2 linked regions of the Homo sapiens genome follow. The protein of the gene in region 1 purifies or fractionates together with the protein of each later gene. This does not show direct contact. Each region holds a gene or a part of one and is shown in the gene's direction. Other genes may lie near its edges.

Region 1 (3,817 bases):
CTGGCCTGTGACCCTGCGTCTAGTCCCTCTTCCATCCACCATCAATGTGTTCTGCATGATGTTGCTAGGGTTACCTTTTTAAAGCAGATATGATCTTGTTTAAACAGCTTTGAGGTTTAAGAACTCAGAGGAATCTATGCTCTGGGTTTCCTATTGTGCTCAAAGGCTAAAGTCCAAAAACTACAATCTGGTTTTAGCCTAATTTCCCTAAATTTGTTTCCTGTTGTACCCTCGCAGGTACTAAGTTTCAGCCACCCTGAACCTTTCTGTTCCCTGAACATTCCTCTCTGCCTGAGTGTTTCCTCTCACTCCTTGAAATGTCCTCCCTCCTCTTCTCTATCTAATGAGTTGCTACTCCTCTATGAAGACTTCCTCAAGACCCACACAGAGTTCTCTGTCCTTTGAACTCTGTCCTTTGAACCCAAATCGTAACTCTGTTCTGCCATTTGGCTGTGACCTAGTTTCTGCTAACTAGACTTAGACTTTGACTTGCTCAAGGACAGGAAAATGTCTTATTTATCTTTCGATCTTCAGAGTCTAGCTCAGTGCTCTCTCTCTCTCTCTCTCTCTCTCTCTCTCTCTCTCTATATATATATATATATATATATGTATATTTGTAAAGGTGGGTGTTTGCCATCTTGCTTAGGCTGGTCTTGAACTCCTGGCCTCAAGTGATCCTCTCAAAGTGCCGGAATAATAGGCATGAGCCTCCCGTGCCTGGCCTCCAGGTCTTTTATTTTTCTTAAAAATCCCAAGTAGCTGGGATCAGAGGCACATGCCACCACGCATGGCTAATTTTTGTATTTTTAGTAGAGATGGGGTTTCACCATGTTGGCCAGGCTGGTCTTGAACTCCTGGCCTCAAGTGATCTGCCTGCCTTGGCCTCCCAAAGTGCTGGGAATACAGGCATGAGCTACCGCGCCCGGCCTCATTCAATATTTTGAATGTACAACTCAATGTGCTCTTAAGATAGAATTTGAAACTAAGATATGGTAAACACATTATCTGGCATTTTAAGAAATAACCACGGTACAGAAAGAGTTTACAGATGAATTCTGAAGGTAATTTTCAAGCCTCATTTTCACACTTAGCTTTAAATCCCTCCATTCTTTCATTCCCCTCTTGTGTGGGTCCTCATAAGCTTTGAGAAAAGACTGAAAAGGAAAAAGTAGCCCCGAAAAAGAGAAAGGACCTAGACAAGAAGTATCTTAGCAACCAAGAGTAAAATGTGCTAAATGACTTGAAAGTGATTACCTTAGAGTCATTTCATATTATGAAAGTTTGGTTTCCCAGCTAGATTCCAGGATATTTGATGTAGTTATTCTGTTTATGATTTTTGGGCAGTATGCTTGGCAAGCTAGCTACTGATTCAATGACTGTTTCAGCTTTTTGTTCTGGGTAATACCTCTACCTAAGCTTTAATGATGGGCTAAAACTGGCAAGAAAAATGAGGCAATTTTAAGATCTAGTGCCTTAGGAAAGAAAAGGTAGAGACAAACAAAATCCTCTATTGATGTTCTGCTCTGTATTTATTATGATAACAGTTATTTTGTTCTGTTTTGGAAAGTGTTGATTTTTGATTAGTATAATTTTCAGTCAAGATCCAGTTGGATCTTTTTTTAACTTTGAACCTAACTGATACTGTTGCTGGCATGCATAAGACACTAAATAAATATTTTAGGTAATTCAACATTGACTTAATGTTGAGATGTAATTAATCACAAACATTAAAGCAAGCTTGACTTCTATATTTTAAATTTCAGTTGTTGCCACCTCCTCCCTTTCATGGTTCCATCAGCCGCCTTCATCAAATCAAACAGGTAAGAAGACTTTCCAAACTGACAGCTGTTCATTTAAAAAAGTAAATTTTATTTTTCTTTGTGAAAATACCTATGTTTCAGTAATTCTAAGTGAGGTCACGTGTAATATTAAGTTTTTATTTCTAGGAATGATTTCTTCAAAAAAAAAACAAAACTAAGAAGCACTTTTTTTGGCTTATTAGCTATTTTAATTAATTAATAATTTCTAGAAATACTGCATACTCTTATACCTTGAGTCTAGCTTCTTTCTTCCAGGGATCTGAAAGTGGAATGCTACACATAAAAATTAATTTTCAGCTTCATAATAACTGTAGTTATTATTTTTTTAACCCTCAGATGAGTTTTTTTGACAGATAAAATGGCCTTCATGCTATTGTTTTGTTCTTAGTGATCTGAGTTCAGGGACACATTGTACCTCACTGGTTTATATTTTGTGCCCATGTGCACGCATGCACGTCTCTGTGTTTGTGTGTTTGTGTTTGTGTATGTGGTTGGGAGGGTGTATGTGGGTGGGTGGGTGTGCACTCATGTGCACATGCATGCTTAATAGCACAAGCATAATACAGAATTCAACCTTTTAATTATCCAAGGATTAGCCACAGAACTCAAAAGATCAAATCACCACTACCCCACAGGTGGTATTTTTTTCTTTGACCCAGCTACAAGCAGACATTTTTTCCCCCAAGAGAGGCTTAACTTATTATTCACTTAGTACTAACAGGTACTTTACATTTGTGGTCTCATTTTATCTTACAACAACTTTATAAGGTCAGAAACTAAAAAGGGGAGAAATTTAGCAATTTACCCAATCTCCAGAGTTGGTGAATGTCAGAGCCAAGATTTGGCCCCAGATTACTGGATTATTTTCCAGCTCCCCTTTCCCTGTTTCAGTGCACAAAGCCCATAATACCATCTTGTAATCCTAGTTATTAGTCCTCCAACTCTTGCTTCTTTTCCCTCTCTCCCTTTCACCCCTGTGGCATGGCTTCCCTAAGGTCAGCTTATCCACTAGCAAGAAAGTATGGTAAAAATGGTTTTTTTCCTTTTTTTTTTTTTTTTTTTTTTTTTGAGACAGAGTTTCGCTCTGTTGCCCAGACTGGAGTGCAGTGGCTCCATCTTGGTTCACTGCAACCTCCACCTCCCAGGTTCAAGCGATTCTCCTGCCTAAGCCTCCCAAGTAGCTGGGATTACAGACGCCTGCCACCACGCCCGGCTAATTTTTGTATTTTTAGTAGAGACGGGGTTTCATCATGTTGTCCAGGCTGGTCTTGAACTCCTGACCTCAGGTGATCTGCCTACCTCGGCCTCCCAAATTGCAGGGATTACAGGCGTGAGCCACCGTGCCAGGCTGTTTTTTTTACTTTTTAGTGGGTAAAACTTGCTTTTACTCCTGTCTTTGTATGTAGCTATTTTAGAAATTCTTAAGGAATGAAACAAGTTCAAAGGAGTAAAGTGACCTCGTGTTTATCTGTGCAATATGTTTCTTTGCTTCTCCTAAATTAAACCAAATATTTGAAAATGGGTTATGTGTTGCTATTTGCTGGTGAAGCTTGATATAAATCCTAATTTACACTGGTTAGGAATATAAGTTTAATGCAGTTTATTTCCATAGTAACATAATATGTATTATAAATATTTAAAAATGAAATATAAGTAGAAAATGAATGAGATGGGAAAAGAGAAAAACATTAATTTTCAATCTGGATACTGATTGAATGGAAAATTAAGACTTATTTTCAGCAGTTTAATGGTCTGATAGATATCTTAAGTTGCATATTTCTTTTTTTTTTTTCTTTGTTTTTGAGATGGAGTCTCACTCTGTCACCCAGGCGGGAGTGCAGTGGTGCTGTCTCAGCTCACTACAACCTCCACCTCCTGGGTTCAAGGGATTCTCCTGCCTCAGCCTCCCAAGTAGCTGAGATCACAGGTGCGTGCCACCACACCCGGCTAATTTTTTTGTATTTTTAGTAGAGATAGGGTTTCACCATGTTGGTCAG
Region 2 (3,817 bases), on another chromosome or scaffold:
TCTGACCCGTTCAAGGCATCGTCAGGGCAGGCTCGATACCCCCATCCATCACTGCTGGAAACATTCCGAGATTATGATTCCGAGATTTCTATCCAGAAGAGGCAGAGTTTGTGCTCGGGCAGGGAGAGGGATAATAAAGGTTTGTGATGTCTCTGCTTAACCAGAAACCTGATTCCTGATTGTCCCCTGGGCAGCCCCTGGTTCCCCTAACATTTTACCTGGCAGTGTCCGAGCTTCAGCAATGGCGTCTGATGTCCTAGTCAGTCCATGCATCAGCAGATGTGGGATGGCATGGTGGGGGCATCCTCTAACAGATAGAAAGATACCCCAGGATTACAGAAATGGAGGGCTCAGTCTGGTCTCCAGCAGGACCTTTGTCCCTGGATGAGTTCACAGCACAGGAGACCTGGGAAGACACATGGGAAACAAATGGCAGGAACAAGAAGTGGAATTGTTGTCACGTTGATTCCTCCTCCCAGAGATCCTTTTGTTCTGTGCCTTTTCCCTTCAAGTCTAATTCTGTCTTTTCCTTTTGTTGCAATTTACAGATACTTGGCCGACCTCACATGCATCAACAGCAGGTAAATAACCCTCTCACCCCTCCCTAGGACTCACTATCTCTGGACATATTTTGTGTTTGAAACTGATAGGATGAGGCTCAATGTGGGCTTCTCTGTTTTCATGTCCCTGTGGGTTGCGTGGGAGGAAGGTGGAATCTCTGAGGAGCCAGTCCTGGGTCTGATGTTTGAGGACGGAGGGTGTTGGTGACCTGTCTCCCATGGAATCCTGTTCCAAGTGGTCAGGAAAGATCCTCATCCAGGTGCTCAGGACGAGCACTGGAGGGCTCCTTAATGCTGCTGGGACCTCATTCCTGGCCCTCAGGCCATGGGATCCAGACCTCTGAAGAGCGGGTGAAAGTGCCGGTCCCTGCACCTGTGTGGCCAAGGCCTTGCCATCACTGGCAATTTGCCAGAAGGCAGAGAGGCCCATGCAGGTGCCAATAAGCTCCTGAATATGGAGGGGGTCTAGGCCTGTCATTTGTAGCTGTGTAGCTCCATCCTGTGTTCACCCAGAGTGGGGAGTGGGGTGTCCATTCCTGTCCTCTCCTCTGGGGTCATACATGCTTACCCATAGCTTGAGCTTTTATAGACTTGAGTAGAATAGGGCATCACTTTTTCCACTATGACCAAGCTTAACCTCTGGGTGCAGCCATCTGCCATTGTGACTGCGTGCCCTGGTGACTTTGGCATTTGTATTCAAACTTGACTACTTTTCCCATTGCCCTGAGTGTTGTCCATGCCTTTTCCTTCACCTCAGAATGGAGATGGATGAAGGATTCTTGTGTTCCCCTGTAGGACCTGAATCCAGTTTGGCCCTGAGGCTGGTGAATGGAGGTGACAGGTGTCAGGGCCGAGTGGAGGTCCTATACCGAGGCTCCTGGGGCACCGTGTGTGATGATAGCTGGGACACCAGTGACGCCAATGTGGTCTGCCGGCAGCTGGGCTGTGGCTGGGCCACGTCAGCCCCAGGAAATGCCCGGTTTGGCCAGGGTTCAGGACCCATTGTCCTGGATGACGTGCGCTGCTCAGGCTATGAGTCCTACCTGTGGAGCTGCCCCCACAATGGCTGGCTCTCCCATAACTGTCAGCACAGTGAAGACGCTGGTGTCATCTGCTCAGGTGGGCCTCCAAGACCTTGGGCTCCCTCTCTTGGGGTAGATTTTGCTCAGGAAGCGAGGTCTCATTATGTTCTGATCTCCTCACTCAGAGCTTTTTCAGCCTTTCCTATATATCTGATATCTCCTTAGCTCTCTCCTAGGAAACTGCATGAGTCTTCATTGCCAGGTTTTGAGGAGGTCAGGTAGGACAACGGGCCAAAGTGAAATAAGGGTCACGCCTTTGTTCACCTACCGAGGCAGCGCAAGCAGAGGGAGAAGAGGAAAGTGCCAGGTCTTTGCCTTTTAGTGTGGCTGGAAAGGAATAGCTGGGGCTGGTTTGTTCATGAGGAAAGAGGCTGATTTGGGTCTTGGCTTTGCAGGCTGCATAGGACCATGGTGCAGGCGTCTGCTCAGCTTCTGATGAGGGCCTCGGGCTGCTTGTACTCCTAGCAGAAAGGGATGGGGAGGTGGCCTGGGCAGAGGTCACAAGGTGAGGGAGGAAGGAAGAGAGAGCAAGAGGGAGGGCTCAGACTCTTCAACCACCAGCTCTTGCTAGGAACTAAGAGAAGAACTCACCCCTGACCAGGGAGGGCACTAAGTTATTCATGCAGTGTTGGTCTCCATGACCCAGACCTGGTGCATCAGGCCTCACCTCTAAACTTGGGGATTCAGTTGCAATATAACACTTGGATGTGACAAGCCTCTAAAGTATAGCACCCTGGCTCTCCAGGGTTCCATCTTTCCCCTACTGAAAGATTTTGCAAAGGGTTACATGGATGAAGCACATATAGAGGATGGGGGAGGGACTGTCTCCCTGGGAGGAGCCCAGAACCACAGGCTCCTGCTAGGAAGCGCGGTCTTCTGCTGAGGCCCAATAAGGTGATGTCTTAATAGAGACACAAGGCTAGGAGTGCGGATGTGTGTCTGTCCCTCTCTGGCCTGAGATTTGGGGGCTGTGAGTCCTTGACCACAACTCCCTCCAGAGCACTGCAGTGTCTTGCCTGTGCACCGGTCTGGTGTGGAGTGTGCAGTCCCCATGAGGTCTGCTAGGCAAAGCATTGTTATGAACGCCTGTGGGCTGGACTGGAACATCAGAGGCAGGACTTTGGCTGGAGTGGCCTCCTCACATTTGCTAACTCAGGGACTGCTAAGACATGCAAGGGAGAGGGTAGGTTTTGTGTCAACCTGATTACTATGGGCAGACACAAGGTTAATCACCTTGGAGTTGGCAATAGTGGACAGGATCTGCCCAGACACCCTCCAAGGAGCATCTCTGTGGGGACATGCATGGCAATGCCCTCCCTCTGTGATGGGGACCTAGGGTGGACTGAAGGCATGATCTGTTTAGTTCCTTCCACCTTTGTTCCGATTTTGCCAGCTTCTGTATAGTGCATCTGATCTGACCTCCTCTTTCTCACAGCTGCCCACTCCTGGTCGACGCCCAGTCCAGGTGAGTCCCCAGTGTCCTTCCTTGGGATGTCCCTTCTCTTTCTGTATAATTATCCCTTTCTGCACTCCACAGAGCCCTCGTTCTTCTCTGAGTGAATACTACATGGCATACAATTTTCCCCTGCTCTGTAACTGAGACCCTGGAATGGCGCTTCTGAACCAGACATAGGGTTCAAGAGGCTTCTGTCTTCTGTTCCATTTATCTCAGCTTTCATGAAGCAGTTTCATACTGTCCCAGTGGCCAACCCTTAGAGGTTTAGGAAGTGGCCTCATATTTAAATAGCTTTGACCCTTTTCTATTCAGAGCTGATATGACCTTCCTGAGAATTGAGAGTGATTGCCAAAGTCTCCTCGGAAGCCAATGTCAGCTAAAGCCTTAAACATGGCTGCCGCCATGGGCAAGCAATGTCAGTGCAGGCCTGACACCTCCCTTCCTCACTCCTTCCAACACCCAGATTCTGCAGCGCTACATGTGCATCCAGAAGAGGCATAGGCCATGCTCGGGCAGGGAGAGGGATAATAAATATTTCTGGTGCCTCCACTTACTGGGAAACTTGATACCCCTTTGGTCAGCTCCTTGGTTTCCCTAACGTTTTAGCTCGAGCTAGTAGAGTGTCAGCAATGGTGTTAGATGTACCCGTCAGTGCATGTGTCAGTGCATGGAACAGGCTAACCCTTTGTGACTGAGAAGAGGACATCCCACACTTCAGA

Evidence for each region.
Region 2: the proteins of PABIR3 (region 1) and DMBT1 purify together in Homo sapiens (affinity purification with mass spectrometry; one large-scale study listed by BioGRID and IntAct). This does not show direct contact.

The regions. Positions count from the first base shown.
Region 1 is NC_000023.11:134,827,463-134,831,279, forward strand, and holds part of PABIR3 (PABIR family member 1), read left to right. Parts: intron 1-1,763; coding exon 1,764-1,820; intron 1,821-3,817.
Region 2 is NC_000010.11:122,581,245-122,585,061, forward strand, and holds part of DMBT1 (scavenger receptor cysteine-rich domain-containing protein DMBT1 isoform e precursor), read left to right. Parts: intron 1-548; coding exon 549-581; intron 582-1,355; coding exon 1,356-1,679; intron 1,680-3,077; coding exon 3,078-3,107; intron 3,108-3,817.